Homo sapiens: one gene and its partners. The protein of the gene in region 6 purifies or fractionates together with the protein of the main gene of each other region. This does not show direct contact. Each region holds a gene or a part of one and is shown on either strand. Other genes may lie near its edges. The genes, in order: ZNF44, ZNF207, VPS50, ZNF174, RPRD1A and BMAL1.

Region 1 (5,649 bases), on a different chromosome or scaffold from region 6:
GCTTGAACCTGGGAGTCGGAGGTTGCAGTGGGCCGAGATCGCGCCACTACACTCAAGCCTGGGCAACAGAGTGAGACTCTATCTCAAAAACAACAACAACAAAAACAAAAACAACAAAATAAAACAAAAAAAAAACAACCATGCTGCCCTATAATTCCAGTTTTTTCACACATTTAACAATTTCATTTCATTGTTGATGTGTTTTTATTTTCTGGGATGAAAATGAATAGATCGCAAAAAAATTATATCAGTGAGAAAATTATGGCAGTGGAAGAGATCTGAGCCAACACCCGTTCTGCCCCGCCCCGCCCCCCGCCCCTGCCAACCCTCTGTCTTCTCTTTCCCTTAATCCTGGGCTCTTAGGCACAGCTAACTTTGGAAGATAGCTTAAATGATAATAAGCCTTCCCCAAAACTCAACTGCCTTTGTAAAACGAATGAATGGCCATCAGGCTGAGGGATGAAAGGAATCGGAATGCTGCTAAAGTGTAGACATAGATTGCCAGCTATTTCTGCAGATAACACCACTATTGTAGATTAGCATTTGTAGACGTATTTTCAGTTTTTGTTTGTTTGTTTGTTTTTTTTTTGCATGTCTGACACCACCTGCACCTGCCAACTCTGCTCCTGTGGCCCCAACCAGAAGTGATTCAGCATAACAGGATAGGTTTTTTTTTTTTTTGTCTTTTTTTTGTTTTTTTTTGAGACGGAGTTTCGCTCTTGTTGCCCAGGCTGGAGTGCAAAGGCACGATCTCGGCTTGGCGCGATCTCAGCTCACCGCAACCTCCACCTCCCGGGTTCAAGTGATTCTCCCGCCTTAGCCTCCCAGGTAGCTGGGATTACAGACATGTGCCACCACGCCCAGCTAATTTTGTATTTTTAGTAGAGACGAGCTTTCTCCATGTTGGTCAGGCTGGTCTCAAACTCCCGACCTCAGGTGATCCGCCCGCCTGGGCCTCCCAAAGTTCTGGGATTACAGGTGTGAGCCACCGGGCCCGGCCTCTTTTTTTCTTTTTTAAATATGTAGCAGTACAAGCCGCAGACAAGAACCCCTCAGACACCGAGTTGTGGAAGGAAAGGGCTTTATTCAGCTGGGCTGGGAGCATCGGCGGACTCACGTCTCCAAAAACCGAGCTCCCCGAGTGAGCAATTCTTGTCCCTTTTAAGGGCTTACAACTAGGAGTCCGCGTGAGAGGGTCGTGATTGATGGAGCAAACAGTGGGTACGTGACTGGGGGCTGCATGCACCGGTAACCAGAACTGAACAGAACAGGACAGGGATTTTCACAGTGCTTTTCCATACAATGTCTGGAATCATAGATAACACAGTTAGGTCAGAGGTTGATTTTTAACTACCCAGCCCAGGGCACAAGCCGGGTTATCTGCCTGTGGATTTCATTTCTGCCTTTTAGTTTTTACTTCTTCTTTGGAGGCAGAAATTGGGCATAAGACAATATGAGGGGTGGTCTCCTCCCTTATAGTATAGAGACGGAGTTTCACTCTATGTCCAGGCTGGTCTTGAACTACTGGCCTCAAGCGATCCTCCCACCTAGGCCTCCCAAAGTATTGGGATTACAGCGGTGAGCCACCACGCACTGCCAAGAGGACAGATTCCATCCCCAGTGATTTCATCCCCACCCCAACCAGTCAGTAGCAAGCCTAGCTACCTCCACCCTTTCTCCCAAACTGCCCTTGAAAAACCCCTACCAGAGGACCTTGGATGAGAATAATTTGAGTAGTAACTCCGTCTCTCACGTATCGTAGCTGGCCTAGTGTTTATTAAACTTTTTTTTTAACTGCAATACCGTGGTCTTTATTTGCGTAGCGCGCAGAAAGAACCCATCCAGCGCTTATAGTGGAAGAAAGGCTTGACCTTGCAGGCGACAGCCTCATCCCAAATTCCTGGTCCCTGGAGGACATCAGCACCACCCCCCCACCCACCCACCCCCTGTCCCCCGCTGCTACAGTGTGGCCTGTGTGGCCTCGGCTGCCCTCCTGCTCTGAGGCCAAGGGATGGCTCCACTGGACAGTGAGTCTGGGATTCCTTGCACACAATTGTTCAGGAGGAAGAAGCAAAAAGGGCCCACTGCGTACAGGTAGGAAATTCCGCTTTAAGGCAAACGTTTCCCGGGACGGGTCGGGTCACAACGCAGGGAGGAAGCCCGCCCTGCCAGGGGCCGGGTCTGGAACCTGTTCATCCGGCTGCACTCAGCACTGTGAGATCGCTTCTTCTGTCACTCAGTGCCCAGGAGGCGGGACCTGGAGGGCTACCCAATCAAAGTCGTGGGCGGGTTCCTGAGAATTGTCAATCAGGCGCGAGGCAGAGAGGAGGGTGTGACGTTCCAGGAGCTAGTGGCCTCTTCACCCTGGTGACCTCTGTTCCGTATTCTGTCACTGAGAGACGCCCTGGGACATCTGTGGTGGCTTTTGTCGCGCTGGGACCTACCCTGACTACGGGAGTTGGGAGGACCCGGGACACCGCACAGCCGGGAAATGGTGAGTGTGCGGGGCCCGGCGTCCTGAGGCAGGGCGAAGGGCTGGTCGGAACCAGTCGGAACCGGCTGTGGCGGGACCCGGGCCTCGCCGCAGCGTCTTTGGGGTCTGGGACCTGAGCGCCCCCTGCGCACCTCGGTCCTCGGTCCGTTTGGCCGCAGGGTGGGGCTGGGCCGGCAGCCGGGACCCCGGGCGTCCTGTCCCGTCCCTGAGCTGCGACTGCGGCCCCGGCCCCGGCGCCCCTCTCTGGGCAGCTCCGCGCCCTCAGCCCCGCTTCTCCCCAGATTGTGCGGCGGAACCAGTACAGGTTCGCAGCCCAAGTCACTGCACCCGGACGCCGAGGGCTGCAGCAGAAACGGTTTAATAGGAGAGGACACCCTAGATCCGCCTCCGTGAGAGGTTTGAGGATGGGGTGTTTAGGGGTCTGGACGGGGGTGGTTGGGATGTGGGGTCGCTGGTTGGTGGAGAAGTGAGGGGTGAATCTTGGGACTGGAGGTGAAGAAACCGCATTCTGCTGCTGAGTGGGCTTCCTTGTGGGGTCTTCAGCCTGCTTGGCGCCAGCCTTTCCGCTGGAATTCAAGATCTGAGAAAGAACTTAGACGACTCTTGAGCAACTCTCAGAGATCTTATCCCCAGGCCAATGGGGAAGCCGGCGGTCAGCGTCTGCTGTGACCTGACTCTCAGGGAGGCGGCTTCCTGTGAAGCAGCGGGGCTGAGGGCACCTGGTTAATATCTAACTGCAATCTCGCCTCCAGCCTGGCTCGCAGTTCCTGTGAGCCCGGTGAGGAGGCTGCACGGTGACGGTGGGAGGGTCACTAGGCACAAACCAGACTCGTGTGTGGGGTTTGTGTGTGGGAGGAGCTGTGGTCTCTGTGCTCTTCAGTCCTTTCTTTCCAAGGGCGACCATTTCTCCTCCGAGGCTTTCAAAGATATTGGCATCAGGGTCTTTGAGACCTGTCCCTTCATCCTAACTCCTCTTGGGGCTAACAGTAAATCTTTTGGTTTCCAGAGCCTTCCATATGCTAACTTCACTCCTCAATTCCCAGTAACGTTATGAACCCTTTGTCAGCAAGACGATATTTCAAATAGACACAGAATTTTGTCGTTTGTTTTCAGATAGCAATGTATGGCTCTTTTTAAACAGATTTATTTTGTTTTCCTTAACATTTCACATGTGAGGAAGAAGAGAATAACCACCTGACACTGCTGTAAAAAAAACCAAACCTTTGTGCCTCTTTTATCTCCCCTAGGCACAGATGCCTTCTCAGTATGTCCTTTACAGGGTGATGTGACCTCAGCCCACCCTGTATCTTTTCCAGGCCCTGTGTTATGGAACTTTCTGGGGCTACCCTAAGATGCTGGAAGCTGCCAATCTCATGGAGGGCCTAGTGGATATCGGCCCTTGGGTCACTCTTCCCAGAGGACAGCCTGAGGTGTTGGAGTGGGGCCTCCCAAAGGATCAGGTGGATGCACTGGGGTGGGAGGAATCTTCTGGTATATCATTCCTGTAAAAAGCTAACCCCTGGGCTGGGCGCGGTGGCTCACGCCTGTAATCCCAGCACTTTGGGAAGCCGAGGCGGGCGGATCACCTGAGGTCAGGGGTTCAAGACCACCCTGGCCAACATGGTGAAACCCCATCTCTACTGAAAATACAAAAATTAGCCGGGCATGGTGGCAGGTGCCTGTAATCCCAGCTACATGGGAGGCTGAGGCAGGAGAATCACTTGAACCTGGGAGGTGGAGGTTGCAGTGAGCCGAAATCACAATCATGCCATTGCACTCCAGCCTGGGCGACAAGAGGGAAACTCTGTCTCAAAAAAAAAAAAAAAAAAAAAAAAACCTAACCTCTGGGACATTGACATTTTTTTCCCCAAGCCTAGTTTCCATTCCTTGGTGACGCATGGCTTATCAGAAAATTGGATGGTGTTATTCAGGGGACAAGACAAATGATTTCTGCCTTCTGGACTCTCTCCGACTGTGAAGCTAGAAAACTGTTTCTAAAAACTGAAAAACCCACCCAATGAGGTTTTGCATGAGCCTGAAAAAGACATAAGGCAGTGTCTCCTAGGAATGTGGTTGCTGAGCACTTCAATGAGCACCGTGGGGCTGGCGGATGTGCCAGGTGATAGAACGACCTGACCTGACGGTTGAGTGAGACTTGTCTGTGTTCCAGTCAGTTCTGCCCCACCCTGGGTTAGTTACCCTGAAAAGATTTGTTCAGTTATTTCCAATTTAATTTTTTATTAACTGTAAAGGGCATCCTATCATTAGAGATTATAGAGAAGATAAAGTGTTTCTAAAGAGGCCAGAAAGAGTTGGAATTCAGAAAACAAATTATATATATGTAGTTTTCTATTCCTTTTTTTTATTATTTTTATTTTTTATAAGACAGGGTCTCCCTCTGTTGCCCAGGCTGGAGTGTAGTGGCACCATCATGGCTCACTGCAGCTTAGGCAGCCTAGACTGCCTGGGCTCAGCCTCCGGAGTAGCTGGGAATGCCCACCATGCCCTACTAATTTTTGAGTATTTTGTAGTGATGGGGTTTCCTCATGTTGCCAGGCTGGTCTTGAAGTCCCGGGCTCAAGTGATCCTCCTGCCTTGGCCTCCCAAAGTGCTGGGATTACAGGCATGAGCCACTGGACCCAGGCCCTATTCCATTTTTTAAAAACTTTTTTTCTTTTCTTTTCTTTTTTTTTTTTTTCTGAGATGGAGTTTCACTATATTGCCCAGGCTGGAGTGCAATGGTACTATCTTGGTTCACTGCAACCTCTGCCTCCCAGGTTCAAGCAATTCTCCTTCCTCAGCCTCCCGAATAGCTGGGATTACAGGAACATGCCACCATGCCTGGCTAATTTTGTATTTTTAAGTAGAGACAGGGTTTCACCTTGCTGGCCAGGCTGGTCTTGAACTCCTGACCTCAGGTGATCCTCCCGCCTCGGCCAATGAAAGTTCTGGGATTACAGGTGTGAGCCACTGCACGCAGCCTTTTTCTTTTTTTTTTGAGACATGGTCTCCCTCTATCACCCAGGAGTGCTGTGGTACGATCTCAGCTTACTGCAACCTCTGCCTCCAGGGCTCAAGAGATCCTTCCACCTCAGCATCCCAAGTAGCTGCGACTACAGGCGTGCGCCACCACACCTGGCTAATTTTTGTATTTT
Region 2 (4,999 bases), on a different chromosome or scaffold from region 6:
AGCCTCACTTAAGCCCAGAGTTAGTATTTTCAATTATAAATTTAATGGTAGGGTAGTTGGAGTGGCTCACACCTGTAATCCCAGCACTATGGGCAGGCAGTGCAGGAAAATTGCTTGAGCCCAGAAATTGGGAGACCAACCTAGGCAATAGAGAATGACACCCTGTCTTTACAAAAAAAAAATACAAAAATTAGCCGGGTGTGGTGGCACATGCCTATAGTCTAAGCTGAGGTGGGAGGATCTCTTGAGCCCAAGGGGTTGAGGCTTCAGTGAGCTGTGAATTCTCCAGTCTGGGCAACAGAGTGAGATCCTATTTAGATAAATCGATTGATTGATCACTTGATAGATAGATAAAATTGAATGGTAGATGATAGATTTATTTGGAATTTAAAATTTGAGCTCTGTTTTTGAAGACATACTTGATTTGTATATATGCAGTACCATTTGGATCATTCCATTTTCTTATATTATTATTCATAATTGAATTCCAAATAGAATTAGCAAGTGTTAAGGCATATGAAAATGAAGGACTCCTATAATTTCAGTGCTTTAGGTAGCTGAGGCCGTAGGATCACTTGAGGCCAAAAGTTCAAGACCTCACCTTTACCCCCCCCCCAAAAAAAAAAAAAAAAAGCCCAGTGTGGTGGCATGTGTCTGCAGTCCCAGCTACTTGGGAGACTGTGGCGGGAGGATCGCTTCAGCCCAGGAGTTTGAGAGTGCAGTGAGCTGCAGTCGTGCCACTGCTGTACAGCCTGCATCGCAGAGCAAGACTTTACTAAAAATTTAAAAGAAAAAATACTGATTTAGGATAATCATTTTACCTTTCATAGGACAGGGAAAGAACGTTAATCTTGTTTAATATAGGGCGAAAACACATTTGAAGAACATAGAGCAGTATTAATTGAATTTTTGGGGAAGAAAAATCTCATGAAGTAATTTTACCCATATATGTATTTTTAAATATTGAATGTTGTAAATAAACTTTCTTAGTTTTTACTCTATGGAAATAATTTTTTTTTTTTAACAGAAAGTCAAAAAAAGAAGCAACAAGATGATTCTGATGAATATGATGATGACGACTCTGCAGCCTCAACTTCATTTCAGCCACAGCCTGTTCAACCTCAGCAAGGTTATATTCCTCCAATGGCACAGCCAGGACTGCCACCAGTACCAGGAGCACCAGGAATGCCTCCAGGTAGCACATAGGATTGCTTAAAATCTAACATTTTTAGGACATTATTGATATTGTATCGAAGTATTACTTTCTTCCCTCTAACTCTTTAATATTTGTTATTATTTTGATTGAAATTCTTGCTTGTAGGCATACCTCCATTAATGCCAGGTGTTCCTCCTCTGATGCCAGGAATGCCACCAGTTATGCCAGGCATGCCACCTGGGTAAGAAAATTCTTTTAATTGCCCTGTAGGCTTGTGCCTAGTAATGATCTTTTTCAATTTGGATGTTATATGAATGAAATGTTACTTTCCATTTTTTGCTTCTAGAAGGTATGGGCTCTATATATCTTGTCTAATAAAGGGATCAACCAGTAAATTTAAGGAATATAAATTTGCCTCTGAGTAATAGATTTTTGGGTTTTAGGGTATATGTAAGCAACCATCTACTTCAATTGCATTTACTGTGATTAAAGTAGTTGGTTATTTATAGATTTGCGTTTCTGAGATTCAGAATTATCTGTGACACTTTGTAGTTGTGACAAGAAGCAGAGAAACTCTGTAAATGATTTATTTGTCAAAGCATCAAAACTAAAATGAATATGAGGTGCTTGTGCCCATCACTTTTACTTAAATATTGTTGGATGTGAGAGGTATACAATACACTTTCCCACTGTATTTTGAAAATCACAGTTAGATTTTGATTTTGTCATACATTTTCACAGATTGCATCATCAGAGAAAATACACCCAGTCATTTTGCGGTGAAAACATGTAAGCATCTCATTCATAATGTAATTCAGGAGGTATAATCATACTGTCATTTTTTTATGTGTGTGTTTAATGGTATCTATTCAGTTGACTTCAGAAATTTTCTAACCTTCCTCACTAAAACTTGCAAGCTAATTAACACAGGTCTCTTAAAGAAGGAAAATAAAACATCTTTTAGGAAACGGTAATAGACCCATATAAACATACTTCAAATGTGCAGTGATTTTCTCCAAACTATTGAAAGTAATGGGACCTGTTAATAAGGGTTAGTATTTAAGAAAGACTATATTCTATGAAATTACATGCTTTATTATTATAGGATGTAATGGAATTTTCTAATCTATTAATAGAAGTTAATCTTCTGATAAAAATTTTAAATCAAGAACTGAATTTACCCACAAAAATTTAAAAAATTTGAAAGAAAATTGACCAATTTATCATTTTTTAAGTGAATTGGACACTGATATTTGAAGGTGAGCTCTTTTAGGGGAAAAAATAAGTGGGTTGTGTTTTTAAGTCATGGTTTAGTGGTAGGTAGTTATTGTAAATAGGCCATCTGGTTTTACTTTTGAGTGTCTTTAATTTTGGTGGTAGTATTTCCTTTCTCTAAAAAAAAAAAGTGTGTGTGTGTGTGTGTGTGTGTGTATATGTATGTATTTGACACAGGGTCTCTTACTCTGTCGCCCAGACTACAGTGCAGTGGCGCAGTCACAGCTTACTGCAGCCTTGACCTCCTGGGCTCAAGTGATCCTCCCACCTCAGCCCTCTGAGTATCTGGGACTACAGGCGCACACTACTGCACCCAGCTAATGTTTAAAATTTTTGCTTTTTTAAAAAGTTATGGTCTCACTTTTTGCCCAGCCTGGTTTGAACTCCTGAGTTCAAGCAGTCCTTGAGCCTTGGCCTCTCAAAACTTCTGGGATTATAGGCATGAGCTGCTGCACCTAGCCAAATAAAAAATCTCATTTCACAGGGTACATTCATTCAATCTTTTTCTTTTCAAAATCCAACACAACTCTGAAATAGAGATTTCTTCTTTTTCTTTAATACTCTGTGGATATTTTCCAAGTGGAAAAAGTGGTGAATTTGCTTTCCCATTACACATATTTTAGATGAGGCCTCTTGTACATATTGAGAGTATATTTGTTCTCAAATGACTTTAAATGTTTTGTCAACATTTTTTTTTTATTGGTAAACCAAAGAGTTTGCTGGGTTTTAGACAATTTATTTTGATAGGATTGTTACAGTGTGTTGTGTGTTCTTTCAGCTTTGATTCATTTCAGTATTAGAGGTCAGATTCAAGTCTTCTATCTAGTGTTGTTTCAGGCTTTAGCCAGAATATTTTTTAATGGTTTATGCTGTTCATTAACTTACTGTTTCTTGAAATTTGCTTTCTAATAGAATGATGCCAATGGGTGGAATGATGCCACCTGGACCAGGAATACCACCTCTGATGCCTGGAATGCCACCAGGTATATGTTAGATAATTTCATTTTAATATGATGTACAGGCTTTATTTCTAAGTTTTTTTAGACGTCTGTGGGCATTAGTATAATGAAATTTAAAAATTTTTGAAAGTTGCAAGTTCCTGTGAGAAGTGTTATATGGACCCTTTTTTAAAAAATGTATTTTGGTAGATATCTCGGCTCACTGCAACCTCTGCCTCACAGGTTCAGGCGATTCTTCTGCCTCAGCCTCCTGAGTAGCTGGGATTACAGGCGCCTGCTACCACACCTGGCTAATTTTTGTGTATTTAGTAGAGACGGGGTTTTACCATGTTGACCAGGTTGGTCTTGAACTTCTGACCTCAGGTGATCCACCCACCTTGGCCTCCCAAAGTGCTGGGATTACAGGTGTGAGCCACCACGCCTGGCTGGCCCTTTCTTGAAGTTTGAAATAGATGATAGGTTTCAAAGCAGCCAAAGTGAGTCACGGCCTATGTGCTGAATCTCACATACTTAGAGCGCTTGTATTTGTTAGGAATGTTTTAGACAAGTAATAGAGAAATCCAACAAACTTTTTTTTTTTTTTTTTTTTTTTTTTTTGAGATGGAATCTCGCTCTGTCACCCAGGCTGGAGCATGATCTCGGCTCACTGCAACCTCTGCTTCCGGGGTTCAAGTGATTCTCCTGCCTCAGCCTCCCGAGTAGCTGGGAGTACAGGCGCCCACTACCACGCCTGGCTCATTTTTGTATTTTTAGTAGAGATGGGGTTTCGCCATGTCGGCCAGCTGGTCTCAAACTCCTGACCTCAGGTTATCCGCCTGCCTTGGCCTCCCGAAGTGCTGGGATTACAGGCGTGAGCCACTGTGCCCAGCCCCAACAAACTGTATTAAACGGTGTAGGCATTCATTGTCTCAGTCAACAAAAAAGTGGTAGATTCAGTGGCTCAATGATATTTATTAACCCATGCTTTTTTTGACTTTGCTCACCTTAGCTTTTTTTCCTCAGAAATGTCATTTGGTTATAAGACAGCTCAGACAAGAAGGGGTGTCGGTTGTAGTGCACTCTCCATTTTCTTTTCTTCTTTTTTTTTTTTGAGACAGGGTGTTGGTCTGATACTCGTGCTGATGTGCCGTGGCACGATCATAGCTCACTGCAGCCGCAGCCTCCCAAAGTGCTGGGATTACAGGTGTGAGTGAGCCTCAGCACCTGGCCTCCTTTTTCTTCTATTTGGAACCAAAATAACTTTCCCAGAAGCTCTTTAGCTCCTTACGTATTATGCTGTGAGGGAACCTGGGAAATTAAGTATATAGAATTTGGCCTATAAAGCAGGAAATACAGCACAAGGAAAGGGATTTGGTTGGCCAGCAAGATGTGCCACACGAGGCTATTAGTTGTTTTTTTTTCTTTTTTTTTTTTTTGAGATGGAGTTTTGCTCTGTTGCCCAGGCTGGAGAGCAGTGGTGTGATTTCAGCTCACCACAACATCCGCCTCCTGGGTTCAAGCGATTTTCTCCTGCCTCAGCCTCCTGAGTAGCTGGGATTACAGGAGTGTGCCACCCCACCCGACAAATTGTTGTATTTTTAATAGAGATGGGGTTTCACCATGTTGGTCA
Region 3 (4,999 bases), on a different chromosome or scaffold from region 6:
GTTTCTAAGAGAAGTTATTTAAAATGTTGAGTGTTTGAGGAAGATTTAAGTCATTCATTTCTGTATTTTCTAATTTTATTAATGTGAACTCTGTGAGGAATTTCCATCATGGTCAAAATGCCCCTAGCTAGTTGCTACAGATGACAGACACCTTTTGACAATAAGTAAAACAGAATGCAGAATGGAAGCTACTAAATAAATCAGTGTCTCTATATTGTACACACATCCTAGACACCAGGAACACCAAAAGTTCTCCCAGTTGTCATGTTGGATACAAAGCAATCTCTGGGAAGAGAGACATTTGGCATGCCTTCATACTGCAGGGAAAGTGAGGCTTCCGGCTCCTTTGTGCTTCCATTTTATTTCCCCATCCATGATTAACAGGCCCCTCCCACTTCTATACAGGAATGTTTATAGGGCCAGCCTTTTGTTTTAGTCAGGGCTTAAGTTTTAGCAGACAAGGAACTTATAAATAAAGGCAGTGTTAGGGCTTCCTGTTGGTCCCTTCCCACTGTTTCCCTGAGGTTTAGTCAATTAAATTTTTAAAAAATTTTTAAACATTCTCAGTCATGAAACTCAAAGGCTCTGCTTTAGTATAGTTCAATTTAAATCTTTTTCAAACAATTTACTTCATTGTTTACAATTAACAGAGATAACTTGTATTCAAATATATATAATAATTAATTAATCAATGGTTTGGTGTTCAGTCATCTCTCTTTTGACATGGCATATATCACTGTGAGCAGGTGTTGACTATGAACAAGGAGAAAAAGCAGAATTTCAAATCATGACTCTCTCTGGGACCAAATAACAAGGAAATCAAAACTTAAATTCAATTGTAAAAAGTAAAAGTTCAGAATAAAAAGTAAGATGAAACTCAACTCAAAGGACAAAAGGGATACAACTTGGGGTCTAGCTTATATCAAGAGAAATCTCATGTTAGCTCTCCCTTCCCTCAATTTATTGCTGCTGTAAGGATATAATCACACTGCTATTATAAACATTCTTTCCCACCTTCCTCCACTACCCAAACCATTCCTAGTCACTCTTTTAAATATTAGCAGTGATTGTTTTGCAAAGCAATGCAGTATACAAATTTGGATTTATAGGGGAATTCTGAATATCACATCCTCTCCTCTAGAATCCTTCTTACATTTAAAAGATAGATACTCTCAAGCACCCCCTCACTGAGCACTGCCTCTACTGATTTAACTTCCTTATAAGCACACCCATATGTATGCAGGTATGGAACAGTGGCCAAATTCTTTCTGTGAACCTTGATATAATAATCATGTTTTACTCATTAAAAAATCAGTTCAATATTTTAAGCCCCTCAAGACAAAAATATATTAAAATGTACAATGAATATGTAATGAGAACATTTCATCATATTTTGGTTAAAAAAATCCTTAACCATCTTAAAAAAGCTACAACACATTCAAATTCAAAAGTAATTGTTTAAAATCAATTAATGCTATAAGATTAAGTATTAGACAAAAGTATTCTCATTACCTAAATAAGTCGATTCATATCTTATTAGAGTTCTTACCTATGGTAATTCTTGAAATAATTGACACTTTGTTTTCTAATAGATTCCTGTAAAACTTCAGACTTGCTACCACAAAATTCTTCTCCAACTTGCATCAACCTAGTTGGATAAAAAGGTTTCAGTAAATTTCAGCAGCAGCCTTATAGAGAAAAAGAAGTGTGGTTTCTCTTTCTTCAAAGATAAAAAAAATCACTAAAATTTGGACATGTGAAAAAATTCTAAAGATCACAAATCCATAAAGGTTTACAAACACCCAAAGGGCAGAAATATTTAAATACACTCACAAACTTAGCAGCAAAAATTATCTTCATTTCCATAAAGAAGTTATAGATGATAACTCACTAGCTCATGATTTATCATGGTTGAATGACTCAAACTAAAGAATAAGACAAGATCTTAAATACTACCTGCTGATTATATCCAAAACAAAGATGAAATCATCATATTTGAATATAGACAAATCAGTTCCAAGCAAGTAGGTTTTTACTTTTAGCTGAACATCCTGTAAGGCAAAGAAAAAGAAAATCAAGCAAACCCAAAATATAGAAAATAAGTTATCAGAAGCATTTACTCTATAGTTCCAGATTAAAATGAGACAGGAATATATTCCTAATTTGTTAACGAATATCTATTTAGGCCAATAGCCAACATCCTTAAGGGATGTAATAGAGACAATCCCATTTCCTATACCAGGAATGCCATCAGGTTGCCAAACTGAATGGAAAGTAGCTACATAAAGTGCTAAGTCAGTATTTCAAAGTACACTGAATTACCAGAAATTCTATCATAGATTGTAAAATTTTACCAAAGTACACTTAAGGCCTATTGGGAGACTAAGTCAGAAACAAATCATATCTGATCCTGGGTGTATATTCAATAACTATAAGATTTTCCTTTCTTTTTATGCATAATACTCAGAAAACAGTCAGCCTAAATCCACAATTAATGATAAATTAAATATTTAATTTTAATAAATGTTTAATATGGTTATGAGTTTAATATAGACAAATGAGAAAATATATGTCAAACCTCTTACAACCACAAAAATAAATTTTAAATACTAAAGCATAAAATCAAATAGCATATCGAATACAAAATTATCAAAAATTAGAAGAGCACTAAATTATAAATATTAACTGATTCATGAAGAAATTTATGTTTTCAAAATATATTTTCCTAAACAATTTTTTTCAAAACATATCCTATAAAAGATGGTCAAGCTGGGCATGGTGGCTGATGCCTGTAATCCCAGCACTTTGGGAGGCCAAGGCAGGAATATCACTTGGGCCCAGGAGTTCAAGACCAGTCTGGGCAACATAGCAAGACCCCATATCCACCAATAATAATTTAAGAAAATTAGGCATGGTGGTGCACATCTGTGGTCCCAGCTACTCAGGAGGCTGAGGCAGAAGGATCACCTGAGCCCAAGAGGTCGAGGCTGCACTGGGCCATGACTCTGCCACCACACTCCAGCCTGGGTGACAGAGTGAGACCCTGTCTCAATCAATCAATCAATCAATCAAAAGAAAGAAAGAAAAAAAAAGATGGTCAAAATAAAGATCAGCCTCATTAGAAAAATCAAAAATACATTTTAAAAGACCATAACATGGCCAAAGGGTCTATAGTCTTCCAAGGTTCAAAGAAGTCCAAAAAGAGTAAGTTATCTTCAAAGAAATTACACTGTGATCTAAGAAGTAACAAATTATCTGATTACAACAACTGAGTTACTAAATTGTAAAGAAAAACTTAATAAGATACTGCTATGGTCTGAATGTTCATGTCTACCCAAAATTCCGAAGCTGAAATTCTAACCTCCAAGGTGATAATATATTAGAAGGTGGGGCCTTTGTGAGATGATTAAATCGTGAAGGTAGAGCCCTCATTAATTAGATTAGTTCCCCTATAGAAGGGACCCCAGAGAGCTCCTTCATCCCTTCCACTATTTGAGGATACAGCAAGACAATGTCTATGAACCAGGAAGCAGGCCCTCCCTCCCAACAATGCTGGCACCCTGATCTCTGACTTCCAGCCTTTAGAATTCTAAGAAATAAACTTCTCTGTTTATAAACTATGCAGTCTAGAATATTTTGTTATAGGAGCCCAAATGGACTAAAACCAGATATATTCAGCCAATAAGCATGTAAGATTCCCTCAAGGTACAAAGATCATTGACTGAGAAAAAAAGAATTATTCATTCTAAACTATAATCTGACCTAAGTATGCTATCTACTTAGTTACTCCTTTTCTAAAATTAACAGAAAAAAAAATTAAGAAAACACAGATAAATGAAATAATAAACAGAACATCTCACTGAGAAAGCATACATTTCTCTATGATAGTGGAAATTTGCTAGGCCTCTAAAACAAAAGATGTACTCAAGACATGTATGAATATTTCCAGTGGAGATTTTCAAATTAAAAAACTTTTTTCCTGCCACTTATAGTCCAAATACATTACAGAAATTAAATGATAGCCTAATTCCAAACAGAAACATATGATTAAATCTGCAAAGAATACATATATAGAAAACTTAAAACTGAATTTCTAAAACTATGACATGACATTTCTATTGCTTCTGTGAAAAAAATAATTTTAAAAAAACCAAACCTGCCATATTCGTGTAAGTCCATGTTCTAATTTCTTTTTTATGTAGCCACGATCAAAATTAGTTTCTTCAGTACCTATCATATTACTCCCTTCTGAAAATAAAAGACAATATATATTTTTAGATTTAATCCAATTTGTGTTTGTTTTCCAAATAATTTCTATTTGGCCTCTCACACATTGTAAGTCTATGTAAGATACAGTAAATATGTTTGATATTTATACAATCAAAACAATATCAAACAATAGGTATTAGACTTAAACCCATTTGGTGAGACAAATAAACGTAGACTATGAAATGCTAAATATACCTAAGACCACTGAGATCATATGTGACTGAGTTGGGATTCTACCTGAGTCAGTGTGGTCCCAGAGACCAGGTTCTCAATACTGCCTACTGCAAGACCATGTAAAAGGCTGTGAGAAGGGCATTACAGGACCAATTAACTGAATTATCAATTAATATGCGTGCTAAGAGGATAGTCTACATTAAAACTCAGGCGTGAGGTGATAATGCATATATTTTATATTTTTCATGATAAATAATAGTTTTATCCACTCCAGATAAATAATTTAACAATGTCTAGTTTAATAGATAAGATCAGTGATCTGCCTCCAATCTCCGCCCTAAAGACAACTGAAAAAGACACATACACATTTATATTAAAAAGATGAAACTTTTGTGTGAATATCCTGTGAAGAACAACTAAGTGAGTATGTTATCATCTTGTCTTAGGTTGGGAAGTTATCCACTGATAACCAGTAAAAGGTCCTTGGAAATGCCAGGCCTCAGATACACAGATGCATGACAAGTTTGCCTCTGAGCACTCCTAAAACGTAAGCCTT
Region 4 (4,324 bases), on a different chromosome or scaffold from region 6:
TACATCTGTAATCCCAGCACTTTGGGAGTCTAAAGTGAGAGGATGGCTTGAGCCCAGGAGTTCGAGGATAGACTGGGCAACACAGTGAGACTCTGTCTCTACAAAAAAATAGAAAAATTAGCCAGGCATGGTGGTGCATTCCTGTAGTCCCAACTGCTCGGGAGGCTGAGGAGGGAGGATTGCTTGAGCCCAGAAGATCGAAGCTATAGTGAGGCATGATCACGCCAGTGCACTCTAGCCTGGGCAACAGAGTGAGACCCTGTCTCAAAAAAAAAAAATGCTACTTGCTTCTTATTTTCTGCATCAGGAATGCACTAATCTGCCAAAAGTTTTCTCTAAACTGAGCAATGAGCTAGGAATTGTATACTGATTTGCATTTTAATTTCCGCTTTGAGAAAACGAGGAGGTGGCATTAGATGATCGCTCAGGCTTATTTCCAGGGCTCATTTTATATAAATATATTTTGTCACTTAAAAATACGCTGTTGAGGTACAATTTACATATCATAAAATTAGCCCATTTCAATTATTTTTAGTAAATTTACTGAGTTGTGCAACCATCACTGTAATCCAGTCTTAGAATATTTTCATTACCCCAATCCTTTTGCTATTTTTTTTTTTTCCTGAGACAGAGTCTCACTCTGTCATCCAGGCTAGAGTGGAGTGGTGCAATCATAGCTCACTGCAGCCTCTAACTCCTGGGCTCAAACAATACTTTTGCCTCAGCCTCCAAGAGTAGCTAGCTGGGATTATAGGCATGCACCATCATGCCTGGCTAATTTTTGTATTTTTTGTAGAGACAGGATTTAGCTACATTGCCCAGGCTGGTCTCAAACTCCTGGGCTCGATCACCCTGCCTCAGCCTCTCAAAGTGCTAGGATTACATGTGTGAGCCACTGTACCCCCATTGCATTTTGTTATTCTTAAAGCTAATGGGCTAAGTGAGAAAGGAGAGTGGGAAGAATTCCCTTTTATATCTCCTTAGTACTCTTTGTCCACTACTTGCTTCTCACTGTAGCTTTTCCTTATGTGTTAGGCTGGGGTTGCAGCAACTGTGTAGATTTTTTTTTTCTCAATCAAAGGTGCTTTGAGAACAGGCACGGTGGTTCACACTTGCAATCCCAGCACTTTGGGATGCCAAGGCAGGAGCATTGCTTGAGCCCAGGAGTTCGAGACCAGCCTGGGCAACATAGCGAGACCCTGTCTCAAAAAATAAAAAGGAAAAAAAAAAGGTGCTTTGATACAAAAAAGATCCCTCAAATGTAATTTTCTTTTCTTTTTGTAAAAGCACCATCTAACTACTTGGAAACTCTTCTCGCACAAACGTGCATATTCTCATTTAATTCATCCTTTGCTATAAACAGCTAGTAATTACAGAAAGAATATGAGGGATCTATTTTCCAATTAACTTTGCCTTGAAATTCTGGTAGATCACTCATCTTTATTAAAGAAGTGTGCTCATGATAAAAAATTGTCTGGTATGACAGCAAATGCATAACTATATATATAGAATTTATCCCTTAACATATTTTAGAGGATAAAGCAACAGAGGGACGATTTAACAGTAAGCGGGCCACCTGCAGGATTGTCCTGATTCTCTCTCAGTAGTTACTCCTTGCTCTCTGCAGAGACTTAAGTTCTCTTTGCCCCAGTGCCCAGACCTGCCTTCTCTTCACCCTGTCATCATGCACGGTTGGGCCCTGGTTGGCCTTTTCTGGGCCTCCTCACAGCAGAATGTGCATCATCATTCCTCAAGGGCCTCGTGCTTTCCTTGTAAGTCACACAGTTTTTGTGATTTACATGCAAGTAAGGGGGAGGAGAAACACAAACACCTTCCGTGTGAATCTAAAGCATGGAGTGCTCCTTTTAGTCCCCATGGTGAAGTCGGTGATGCTGGTGAAGGTTTGAGCTCTGGCGAAAGCTTTTCCCACACTGGCCACACTGGTATGGCTTCTCTCCAGTGTGGATCCTCTGGTGCAGCTTCAGGGTTGACTGCCGCCCAAAGCAGTTTCCACACTCTCCGCACGTGTAGGGTCTCTCTCCTGTGTGGACTCTCTTGTGTCTCTTCAGCTCTGAATTCCACGTGAAGCTTTTCCCACAGTCATCACATTTGTAGGGTTTCTTTGCTGAGCGGGTGGGCTGGTGACCAAGATGTTGCAAACGGTTGCTCAGACTCCGTTTACCTCCTTTGCTTTTCTTTAGCTCTCTCAGTGGGTGGCTTTTTAGGGGGCTGCTGATGTATTCCACCCTGCAATGTCTCTGGTAGTGAGCAAATGGCTTTTGAGCATTTGGGGAGCTGACCTGCCTCCGTGACAACCGAGGTTCACTCATATTTGCCCCTCTTGGTTCAGGATTCTGCAGACCATTCCCTTTGGATCTGCCAGCTGACACTGCACATGGCTTTGCTCCTTTAGCCCCTTCCTGTTGTGGATTTTCCTTGTTGTCACTTCTCATTCTGGGGGCCTCTATAATTAGAAAGAAAATGCTTCATTTTCTGCACTTGGAAGAAATAACTTCAGCAAGAGTTATGAAATACTCTGAGAGGTTTCTCAAAGGGTGGCCCTCCGCTGGCAACTTGCATTAGACTCATCTGGAGCACTTGTTAAACAAGCAGGCTCTTCACCCTTCCCCCAGAGCTGCTGGGTCAGAATCTCGGGGGGTTGGGCCTGATAATCTGCACAGTTAGCAGGCTCCTGGGGTGACTGTGATTTATATTAAATTTAGGAACCAAGTTCTCCATCCTCCTTCTTCCTTTCTCCCTTTAGGGAAAGGTTTAGGAAATGAAGAACAGGGAAAAGCAAACCCATCAGAATTGGGTATCTAATGAAGAAGGAAGAGAGGTGAAATCTCAACATTGCAAATTTTACTGCTGTAGTCCAATGCCTGAGCTATTTCAACAAATACCCCTCACTTAGTAAACACTAATTGACAACCACCTTCTCTTCAAAAGATGGTAAGTTCAGAGACTGTGATGTTTTCTTTCATTACAAATTTGACAGTATATGAGTTCAGAAACTGGAATCAGGGCTTAGCCATGTATCCTAATTACAGAAGGATTGACAGTCTGGATGGAGATGAGCTGGAACGGCCTATGGGAAATCACAGGATCTGGAGAAGGATCCCTTGTGATGTGGAAAATGTGTGTGTGCACACGTGCATGCACAGGCACATGCACGTTGTTCAATATGGCAGCCACTAGCCACATGTGACTATGTGGCTACTGGGTACTTGAAATGTGACTACTGTGACTAAGGAACTTAATTTTAAATTTTTTTTTAATTTTAATTCATTTAAATTCAAATGTAAATAATCAGCCTATACAATCAGGGTCAATTGCTTTTTGACAAGACAATTCAATGGGAAAAGAATAGTCTTTTTCATAAAGGATTCTAGGACTACTGGATTTCCACATACAAGAGAATGAAGTTGGACCCTGCTATGGTCTGAATGTTTATCCCCCCTGTCCCCTGACACACATATATTGACAGTCCCCAGTGCAGTGGTCTTGGGAGGTGGGGCATCTGGGAGGTGATTAGGTTATGAGGGTGGGGTCCTCATAAATGGGATTAGTGTCCTTATAAAAGAAACCCAAGAGACTACCATGTGGGGACTCATAGCAGGCACCATTTATGAGGAATGGGCCCTCGCCAGACACCAAATCTGCTGGCACCTTGATCTTGAACTTCCCAGTATCCAGGAACTATGAGCAACAAATTTCTGTTGTTTATAAATTACCTAGTCTAAGGCAATTTGTTGTAAGAGCCTGATCAGATTAAGACAGACCCCTGATCAGATTGACAGACCCCTACCTCAAAACCTATATAAAAATTGACTTGTTTATGTATGGGGAAAAAATAAACTTAAAATGGACCAAATAGCTGAAAGTAAGAGCTAAATCTATGTCTCCTTGAAGAAACCATAGCTGTACATATTTGTGCCCTTGGATTAGGCAGTGCTATTTTACATATGACACCAAAGCATAAAGAAAGAAAAAAATAGATAAATTAGACTGCAGCAAAATGAAAAACGTGTGCGTCAAAGGACACTGTCAAGAAAGTGAGACAACCCACAAAATGAGAGAAAAGATTTGCAAATTACACATAAGGGTCTAGTATCTAGAATACATAAAGGACTCTTATAAAAAATAAAGACAAATAACCTAATTTAAAAATGACCAAAGGATCTGAACAGATATTTTTCCACACAAGATATGTAACTGGATAATAAGCACATGAAAAGATGTTCAACACCATTAGTCACTAGGGAAATGTAAATCAAAACCTCAAATCAAAATTTCTCACCGAATAGGATGGGTATAAGACAAT
Region 5 (4,999 bases), on a different chromosome or scaffold from region 6:
TTTTGTTTTTAAATGTAAAAAGTAGTGTTAGAGTGGCCGGGCGCAGTGGCTCACGCCTGTAATCCCAGCACTTTGGGAGGCCAAGGTGGTCGGATCATGAGGTCAGGAGATCGAGACCATCCTGGCTAATATGGTGAAACCCCGTCTCTACTAAAAAATACAAAAAATTAGCTGGGCGTGGTGGCGGGCGCCTGTAGTCCCAGCTACTCGGGAGGCTGAGGCAGGAGAATGGCGTGAACCTGGGAGGCGGAGCTTGCAGTGAACCGAGATAGCACCACTGCACTCCATCCTGGGTGACAGAGCGAGACTCCGTCTCAAAAAAAAAAAAAGTAGTGTTAGAGTGATATATATGTGTTCATACATTTCTTTGTAACTATATAGAACTATGTAATTCTGTGGAAAAATAAGTTAGAATTATTATCTTAACACTCTGTGTCCTCCTACATGTTGGTATGGTATGGTATTCCTTAACCATCAGATTAATTCCAGAAAGACTTTTTTTTTTTTTTTTTTTTAAGTGGGCATTGAGTCTTTAAGCTTCCTCCTTCTATGTTTCAAACATGTAGGCGGGACAGATAAAGTGTAAAATGAGAAAATGAAGACATAACCATACTCTTAAAACAAGGCGAATGTATTTTCATGGGTTAGAAATTGTACACCTAACTTCATAGGTGAGACAAAACCTGGCTCCTGCTGAGCCCTGGTCCCGAAGCAGACATGGGGTTGCCAGAAATTAGTATCCTTTAAGGTCACAGGAACTCACAAGGGCAACAGGAACTCACAGTGCTCCGTGGGAGTTAGAGGACTGGTTCCAAATTCACTGAATAAAATCAGAGGCTGGGAGGAGCTCTTTCCCCCATGAAGGTGAAAGAAAAATACAATCAATTACTACCTGTAACTGTGGATTTATATTAGTCTCAGTACTGGAGAAGCAGAAGGAATCAGACCAAGGCCACGACCTGAGTCAGCCTACCTGTTTGTTCAGTGATAGGAATGCTGAAGCCCATTGGCCACTATGGACAAGAGCTTGAATAGAAAAGTGATAAGAATGTTACATTTGGAACAACCAAACACTAAGATTTATGTCTCTTCCTATTTGGTAATAACTCATGACAGAAAATCATTTTTGGCTAAGAGCCTCATGATTCTATGAACAGTGTTTTACCTAAGTTCTAGATAAAGGATCTGGTCTCCTTCCGCTCTCCCTGATGAAAGGGTAACCACAGTTGCATATCTTAGGAGTATTTTTAAGTAATCATCTGCCTCTCCTCTAGTACTTGTGTAAAATGCTGTTGCTCTTTGTTTTATAATGATCGTTTTTTAGATTAGTTGTGCTGCTTAATTATCAATGGTTCAGCTTTGTGGTCTTCATTTTTGTGTGTGTGTTATTCTTTATAAGAATGGCTAAAATCTCTTTGTAGGTTCCCGTTAAACTCATTTCATTCTCCTCTGGTAGGAAGTAGTAGGCTTAGTATTGTTTCAGACAACTTTGCTTTCTTATCTGATGCTTGATCAGGCATTGGGAACTTAGAATGTACTCATGTAGGACTGTGAAGGTGTGATGAGATCAGGTTGTAATTAAAGCATCAATGCATTGCCAAGACAATAAAGCCAGATTTCTTCTTAGAACTCCAGACAATTAGAATTTTCTAAGAATGATTTTAAAAATAATATATTAGTTGTGGCAAGATGAGAAACAAGCTTTCTGGTAATTGTTGTTACTCTTAAGCACACCTTAATTGTAGAGGGGATATATCTTACAACAAAATTATTTTTTAAAATACTGAAATTTTAAACACTTCTAATGAGTGAGCACACGTAGGATAGTATATTTCTTATTAGTTTCATTCATTCCTACCACATTTGATCATTTGTCATGTGCTACCCTTTTTTTCAAGGGAATAGTTTAAAAATCTTAATATATACACAGAATTACTAATATCCTATATTTTTTAAAGCATATGTGTAATTTCCTAGTGTTTCTGAATCTAGTATTAGAAATTAAGAAAGAAAGATGAAAAAGATGGGCTGGAGAATGGAAACTAGTAAAAATAAAATTTAATTGTTTTTCTTTGGAATAACTTTATAGACATTATGAGTTGTGAAATCACCAGCAAAGAGTTGCGCTTCCCTCCTAATTATAGCTTGTATGAAAACAGTGGAAGTAAAATATTTTAATGATAAAATAATTTCAGTACTGGTTAAGCAATATATATTAGTCATCAGATTATGGAATTTTGAAATATTTTAATCTTATTAACAAGCCATAGGATACTTGAAGATATCATATTTGAACATATTCTAGAACTACATTTCTCTTGGGCTTTAATTACAGCATTTAGAAATGAAATCTGGGAGACTCTTCTGTGTTGTAGTAGATGATTTGTAACCCTCTTTCCATAATATCCAATTTAATACTAAAAAAACTTCTAGTGTACAATGATAATGTAATGAATATATCATACATAAAACTTGTATTCTCTAGGTTGATGTTATAGCCTACCTTCTCTTTCACCACTGATGTATTTGCCATATAAATCCTCATTACCTCATTTTAGTACTCAAATAATTATTATTACTCTGTCTCCACCACTGGAGTAAGCTCTCTTCAAGGTCTAGGGCCTTGTCCTGTTTATATTTTCAACACCTAACATAGTATAGCCTCCTTTTTTCTTAACATATGAAAGAAATTGATTGTCTTCAAAAGCAGTTTATATTAGGAGCTTTGTACTAGTAAATAGCCCATAGGGATGAAAGAATATGAAATTAAAGTCTTTTGCACTTGTTTAAGCTCAATTTATTTTGGTTCTGAAGTTGTGTACTTTTTAGACTCTAGATCTCGTTAGAGCATTACAAGATCTGGAAAATGCAGCCTCAGGTGATGCAGCAGTTCATCAGAGGATAGCTTCTTTACCTGTTGAAGTCCAAGAAGTATCTCTATTAGATAAAATAACAGGTAAGAAAAGAAAATGTGATCCAGAACTTTTTTGGGAGTTGGGATGAGAGAACAGCATATGTCATTGTTTTTGTTGTATAATATTTTATTATCCCGTGCTTTTCTTAGATAAAGAATCTGGAGAAAGGCTTTCCAAAATGGTAGAGGATGCGTGTATGTTGCTGGCAGATTACAATGGCAGATTGGCGGCAGAAATAGATGATAGAAAGCAACTCACTCGAATGTTAGCAGATTTTCTTCGTTGTCAAAAGGAAGCCCTTGCAGAGAAAGAGCATAAATTGGAAGTGCGTAACCTTTTTCTTCTTTAGTGCTTATTTATTTAATTCTCTTTTTGTTAGGAATTTTAAAATATTTTAATCTATGTGCACATTTTGCATTTTTTAACATAGACCTTTTTAAGCAGTAGCCCAGGTAAGCTTCTCCTTGTATTAATGGTTTTTCTTCTACTTGAACCAAATTAATCTTGCAAGTAAACTTAGAAATTTGGAATTAGCAAAATTGATTGCATTTAAAAATTATTCTTGTGAAATTCCATGCAACTATAATTTATCTTACCAGTTTAACCCTAATGTATCACAGAAATAATAGGAAAATAGCAGGTGGCAGTCACTTGTAGTAGGATTTATTTAGTTTCTGTTTTGAGAAGATGTAGTCTTTTAGGTATACCATTAAGTCTTTAAATTACTCCCTTAATTCCACCCGCCAATTCTAATGCTTACATGTTCCAGCCCCACTCCCGGCTCACACTCTTAGGCAGAAATTCATTGCTCCTGTAAATTAAGTAATAATTAATACCGCTAATGAGAAATCTGGGAGTACAGGAGGTGATTTTAAAAAATGCTCGTATTTCCTTTGATTAGAGTAGCAATTGTTAGGGATACATGAGCCAGATTTGGTTTTATGTAAAAAAAATCTTTCAGTTGATGAGTTCTTGTTTAAATTGTATTGCTGTGGCAATTTCTTATTGTAATAATATGTAGGAGAATTTCTAATTTGAATCCCTTTATTTACAGAAAGCTCACTGTAAATTTGTAGGAATGTCATGGTACTACCCCATTAAGTTATTTTTATTAGTGTTTAGTTATTGATTCAGCAGTCTCTAATTGTGCCAAAAATGGTGCTTAGATTAGATTGCCATTGCTACCCATGGGAGCTGCTACTTAATTATTCCCACCTCAAATTCCCAGCTCTCAAGTTAGCACTACTCCTTTGCAATTTACTCCTTCTCTGCTCGTATAAATACCCTCAGATGATGATAGTTGGTGGCCACTATACCTTTGAAGAGGTTGCCCACTTCTACATGGAAAGGAAAAGATGGTTTTTTTTTTTAAAAGATGAATTTGATAATTAACTTGCCACTATTTCACCTTGTGATGAAACCTCAATTTTAAACATAGTGTTAATTGTTTTATTGTCCACAGAATTAAGGGTAAGTAATGTCATACAATTTTTGTCTTTAGTCTTTTAGTATGGTTTCTTTAACTTCTATTGAGCTTCTGTTGCAGATATTGGACATGGGCGTATCTTCTAACGATGTCGTCACCATTAGTATATTCTTCCTGCTAAAAATAAATATCAAACCCTGAAGCCTGTATTGTCTCATGTTTTTGAAAATTGAAGAGAAGACTGTAACTTTATTCTGCTTTATACTTTCTCACTTATGATGATGGTCATTTGTCACTGTTTACAAAAACAGAATTTATATTTGAAGTGTAACTGTAGAAAATAGATCAGATGCCACTCCCCACAACCCCCTTTTCCCCCAGTGCCTTCCAGCCACATTTCATAGTTGACAGTCATAGATTATGAGGCTGATGATAATAATAATGTTAACATTCATGTGTCAGGTACTATTCTAGGCACTTCACATAAGCAACTCATTTAATCTTACACAGCAGGATGTATTATCCACATTTGATAGATACAGAACTGAGGCACAGGAAGATTAAGTAACTTGCCTAAGGTCACAAAGAGCTAGTGAGTTGTTTGGAACGCAGAGAATCTGCCTCCAGAGCCAGTGCACTTCATCAAAAAGACACATTG
Region 6 (4,999 bases):
TTAAAAATATTTGAGTCAAGCTTATTTTAATAATCTGATGTAACCAGTTAAGAGGAGTTACAAAAAGAAAGGCAAATAGGAAGGGAGAGTTTAGGAAAAAAACAGATCTAGAAAGCCCAGGGGAGAAAAAGATGGATGTGATGGGAAAAGCAAACTCTTTTCACTTAATGACTTTTAATACCTTCTGATATGCTTACTAATCACCCTTCTAGGCATTATCTCTGAACCTTCATTAGCCTTCTCTCTCTGAAGAGATTATGCCCCACATGGGAGAAAGCCTATGTCTAGGTAGCTGTAGCCTCCTCTTGAGTTCCAGGCACAAACTTGGACCTCCACCAAAACTCAAATACTGGTCAACTTTTTAGAGATTTAAACAAATTTTAAACTTTTATTCTGTTCCTATCAAATTTATCTAGGATTAGCTTGTTTCACACAGTTCAGTTCTTAAAATTGACTTTATGTAAGATGTTTTGCAAGCTCATTGCAATGGAAACGAATAATGATGCCACTTACCAAGAATAGAAGAACTATCAGAATATGGATAACCTGGGTTCTCCTGAGCCTGGCCTGATAGTAGGCCACTGGAAGGAATGTCTGGAGTCCCTCCATTTAAAATCTACAAACAAAAGGAGGGAAGTGTGAAGTTTGAATCAGTATTATGAGCAATGCCAAAAGGAAAATGAAGCATGGGGTGGGGTGGGGAGAAGCTTCAAATGGCTTCAGTTTTCTATTGGATGATTTCAAACAAGGAACTGTTAGACAGACATGGTCAGAGTAAGAAAAAACCTCTCCCCCGAACTATTCTTTTCTCTCCATTTTAGTGAGCCCACAGAGGCAACTTAAAGGCTGAATAAAATCCCAAGAGCATTCAACTGCCTGGAATCATGATGCCCACATATTTCTTTAGGACCAATGCCTAAACTTCAATGAGCCCAGCTAGACGTTTCCCCTATAAGGGAATAAAACATCTTATAGTGACAGATATTTCTGAAGAAGAAAAAGTGGAGTTAACAAGCTGTGAAGAGACACAGCTCAAGGAGTCAAATGAAGAAAACAGAAGTAAATCTCTTATACTACAGGTGCCAACTTCAGTAACCTGTGGTTTAAGTTAAGACAGGCTACTGGGGAGGATTATTACTACTACTCAGTAAGAGAACTCTGTCTCAAAATCTCCCCCACTCACCCCAGCTGCCTTCCCCTGGCTGAGTCTCAAAGAAGAGCATTCTTTGAGACCTATCTGGATATACGTGAGGAAACAGTTTGGTAGCTGCTGCTTTCAGGAGCAGCAATGATTTCAGGCTTTGCCAGCAGGTGGCATTATAACTTACTTTATTTCCACAGCAACGTTTTGGTCTAGGGACCCTTTTACACTCTTAAAAAAATCATTGAGGACTCCAAAGAACTTTTGCTTATGTAGGCTGTATTTATCAATATTTACTGTATTTGAAATTAAAACTAATAGATTTCTTAAATGTAATAAACCCGCTACATGTTAACATAAATAATGAATAGTATTTTAATGAAAAATAACTATTTTCTAAAACAGTAACAAAAAATTACCAGGCAGAGTATTATCTTACATTTTTGCAAATCTAATGTCTGGCTTAATAATTTTCAACTGGATTCTCATATATGTTTTTCCATTCAGTCTATTTAGATACGTCTTGTGATTCAAGTATATGAAGGAAATCCAACCTCCCACAGATAAGTAGTTGGAAAAGGGAGGCATATTTTAATAGACTTTTCAAATAATTGTATTCTTTTTTGATACCACTTCAAAACTTGACACGTAGAAGTTTCTTAAAGGTGAGTTGCAATGTGGAATCTGAAACCATATCAATGAATGTTTTGTACTCTTTATATCTTGGCACTTAGGATGGATCTTTTACCCTTACATGATTTTGAAATACCTTGCATTGTTTAGTTACAAAATATTGGTTCACTGAGTTATGCAGATCTTCTATATATTGACACATTTCATTATAGAGCATCAAAATATCACTATTATTAATACTCCCTATCTCATCAACAACATTTTTTAAGTTTTAGGAAGATCTCAAGGTCAAAGTAGCAGAGACAAGTTTTCTAAAAATTCCAATTTTTGCTTGAAAGCTCAGATTTTATCATTGGCAACAAATGTCAGTCATTTTCCTTAAAGTGACAGGTTCACTTCATTCATTTCCAAAAAAAAAGTATTCTAAATACCCAAAACCGAATGACCATATACAATAAAAATGGTGTCCAATGAAAATAGTAGCTAGTTCAACTCACAACTTAATCACACAAGTAGTTTTTGAGACAAACATCATACTTTGGTATGCAGCACAAGTTCTGTGTACTTCTCATTTTGTCACAGAGCATTAAAAAGATGTGTGCTTGAGAATTTTATAAAAGTAATGATGGACATTTTCCCTCCCTCCCTCACTCCCTTCCTTCCTTTCCTCCTTCCCTCCTTGATAGGGTCTCACTCTGGTTGCCCAGGCTGGAGTACAGTGGCACAATCTCAGCTCACTGCAGCCTCAACCTCCTGGGCTCAGGTGATTCTCCCACCTCAGTCCCCGGAGTAGCTGGGATTACAGGTACACCACCACACCTGGATAATTTTTTTTGTATTTTTTAGTAGAGATGGGATTTCTCTATGTTGCCCAGACTTGCCTGGAACTGCTGGACTCAAGCAGTTTGCCTGCCTCAGCTTCCCAGAGTGCTGAGATTACAGGGGTGAGCCACTGCACCTAGCCATGATGGACAATCTTAAATGAAACTGGCTTTAAACTATTTTTTTACTGTGAGTGTGTGGTGGTGAAGAATACAATGACTACTAGTATAGTTTGGTGCCACTTGTCTGATTTTTGTAAAATGCCAGCAATTTTACCCAACCGTGCTTTTAGTATGAATAGTGCACATTATCAATACAGGGAAAAAATTAACGTTTTAATGTTATTAAGAAAATAGCTTTAACCTTGCAGACCCTTAAAAGGATCTTGTGCCCCCTCTCTTTCTGGAAAAAGACTGCAGATGACATTTGTAGAACTGCTGCTTTATCTGAATTTTCCTTAGTGCTTCTGGATGTCTGTACTCTCTTGCGACCTATGGAGGCTCACTTAGGCTTCCTTTTTAGCTTGATCCTGACAAACAACTGCAGGCTAAATGGTTCATTTTTGGACCTTCCAAATTTGAAAGTGACTGGAAAGGGCTGGGTATGGTGCACCATTTAATACTGCTGTCAGTTTTAACTGTCTTGTTTAAGCTGCTTTTCTTATAAGTCCTGCTGCCCAGGACTCATCTCGTGAGAACACATCCAAATTTCTTCTCACAGATCCATTTTATAATCCATTCTTCTCAAAGAAAAGGGAGAATTTTCATAAGTGCCTCAAAAATAGCTGGGGCTTTATGATGCAGAGCACAGCTTTTGATTTCTGGTAGTTGTTGATGTGAAAAGAATTGGAAGCCATGAGCCCAGGATTGTAGCCTGGGGGCCATACTTATAAAACGAACGCTGAGGAGCCTGGATCTTGTCACTATAATGTTGTGAAGGTGAGATGAGACAATGTATATGAAAGTTCTTTGAGTAATATTTAAGCCTATACTGGACTGATAACCTTTCAAAACCAAGAAGTAGAATCCTTGGTAATACCAGGAGTCAAGTCAAGTGCCTAAAAGTTAACTTAAGAAGCAGAGACTGGAAGACCACCCTAAGAAGATGGTGGATCCAATATGCAGGAAGGACCTGGAGGTATAACAGAAGAACAGCTAAGAAGACAGCTGGCAAGCAGTGTGTGTGTTGTGGGCAGGGGGGCGGGGGTCACGGGACACCAAGCTCAGACTTCATCTGTCAGTGGTATTTTGGGCCAAGCACTTTCACATATATTATCTCACAGTAGGACCTCGTGCAAAGATGCTGGCTACCCTAACCATTATTAGCTCCATTATAAAGAAAACTAGGGCTTGAAAGTTGTACAAGTTCACATAACTAGCACATGGCAAGGCCAAGCTTCGAACCCAGGTCTTACTTTGTAGTCTTACCCATTAATTTGTTAACTTTCAACCTTTTTTGGGGGGAGCAAAACGCTTTTTCAAATAGAAATGTTTGCAGAAGATTCCTGTATAAAAAAGAAGTATTGCTGCCCTTGTAGAAGCAGGATTTCTACTCTTACCCTCTCTCCTTAGCAACTATCCCCACGCCCATCCCACCTGGTAACACCACAGCTCTTGGTAACCTGAACAAACCTCCGAGGAGCTCAGTTTTGAAAATCCTTGCCCTGCTTTTGATGGTTTGTGCCCTAGGAGTCCTGCCTATGGAAATTCCTGATATTCTCTCTCTCTGTTTTAGGAGATGGGGAAAGGAAGCCATTGTGTCCAAAATGATGGCCTTTAAACTGTCCTAAGCTCTACTGGCATCAGGCAATATAAACAGATTTATAATTTACGATTAAGATGGGCCTAGGCTTATAAGTTCTCCAGCAAAGATGAAAACAAATGACTGGTTCCTAAACCTATTTATAGTGTAGTCTTATAGCAAGCTCTTCATGAGGGCTGGTGATTGATCCACTGCTTGGATCCAATGCTGTCACACCAATGGAACCCCCAGGCAGCAGATCCCCAAGTATTCTGCAGCTATAAAGCATGGCTTGATTTCCAAAGCACTGCTGGTGGCATTGCTGTTTCCATTGCCTGCCCTAGACACTAATATTTTCTCCCTTGAAAATTCCTGGCAGAAAATGAGAAACTTTTCTATGTGAGGTACTCAATAATCTTTCCCTCATGGGAACTCTTGAATTGCTCCCTCAATTAAATGAACTGACAGTTCCCCATTCCTTATTCTTTCTCCCTTCTTCCACTCACATGGAAGAAAGCCTCTGAGGATGTCAGCAAGCCTCCCTAGCCCTACCAGTATGCTTTGTATCCAGCCTCACACAGATGCATTTACTTCAAGGAGGAAGTAGTCCAAATTGTTTCAGCAATCGCAGTTGCAATTCCATACTCCCACCCCCAACATTTC

Evidence for each region.
Region 1: the proteins of BMAL1 (region 6) and ZNF44 purify together in Homo sapiens (affinity purification with mass spectrometry, with the first as the bait; one large-scale study listed by BioGRID). This does not show direct contact.
Region 2: the proteins of BMAL1 (region 6) and ZNF207 purify together in Homo sapiens (affinity purification with mass spectrometry, with the first as the bait; one large-scale study listed by BioGRID). This does not show direct contact.
Region 3: the proteins of BMAL1 (region 6) and VPS50 purify together in Homo sapiens (affinity purification with mass spectrometry, with the first as the bait; one large-scale study listed by BioGRID). This does not show direct contact.
Region 4: the proteins of BMAL1 (region 6) and ZNF174 purify together in Homo sapiens (affinity purification with mass spectrometry, with the first as the bait; one large-scale study listed by BioGRID). This does not show direct contact.
Region 5: the proteins of BMAL1 (region 6) and RPRD1A purify together in Homo sapiens (affinity purification with mass spectrometry, with the first as the bait; one large-scale study listed by BioGRID). This does not show direct contact.

What each region holds. Positions count from the first base shown.
Region 1 is NC_000019.10:12,291,537-12,297,185, reverse strand, and holds the start of ZNF44 (zinc finger protein 44), read left to right. Parts: upstream 1-2,302; 5' UTR 2,303-2,491; coding exon 2,492-2,494; intron 2,495-2,573; exon of another isoform or gene 2,574-2,890; intron 2,891-3,810; coding exon of another isoform or gene 3,811-3,954; intron 3,955-5,649. UniProt on the Homo sapiens protein: May be involved in transcriptional regulation.
Region 2 is NC_000017.11:32,359,571-32,364,569, forward strand, and holds part of ZNF207 (BUB3-interacting and GLEBS motif-containing protein ZNF207), read left to right. Parts: intron 1-1,027; coding exon 1,028-1,195; intron 1,196-1,321; coding exon 1,322-1,397; intron 1,398-1,897; coding exon 1,898-1,945; intron 1,946-3,343; coding exon 3,344-3,414; intron 3,415-4,999. UniProt on the Homo sapiens protein: Kinetochore- and microtubule-binding protein that plays a key role in spindle assembly. ZNF207/BuGZ is mainly composed of disordered low-complexity regions and undergoes phase transition or coacervation to form temperature-dependent liquid droplets.
Region 3 is NC_000007.14:93,293,794-93,298,792, reverse strand, and holds part of VPS50 (syndetin), read right to left. Parts: intron 4,249-4,999; coding exon 4,157-4,248; intron 2,052-4,156; coding exon 1,957-2,051; intron 1,649-1,956; coding exon 1,550-1,648; intron 1-1,549.
Region 4 is NC_000016.10:3,406,461-3,410,784, reverse strand, and holds the end of ZNF174 (zinc finger protein 174), read right to left. Parts: intron 2,465-4,324; coding exon 1,866-2,464; 3' UTR 1,421-1,865; downstream 1-1,420. UniProt on the Homo sapiens protein: Transcriptional repressor.
Region 5 is NC_000018.10:36,025,141-36,030,139, reverse strand, and holds part of RPRD1A (regulation of nuclear pre-mRNA domain-containing protein 1A), read left to right. Parts: intron 1-2,829; coding exon 2,830-2,956; intron 2,957-3,064; coding exon 3,065-3,240; intron 3,241-4,461; coding exon of another isoform or gene 4,462-4,542; exon of another isoform or gene 4,543-4,999. UniProt on the Homo sapiens protein: Interacts with phosphorylated C-terminal heptapeptide repeat domain (CTD) of the largest RNA polymerase II subunit POLR2A, and participates in dephosphorylation of the CTD by RPAP2.
Region 6 is NC_000011.10:13,381,306-13,386,304, reverse strand, and holds part of BMAL1 (basic helix-loop-helix ARNT-like protein 1), read right to left. Parts: intron 1,826-4,999; exon of another isoform or gene 1,581-1,825; intron 617-1,580; coding exon 514-616; intron 1-513. UniProt on the Homo sapiens protein: Transcriptional activator which forms a core component of the circadian clock.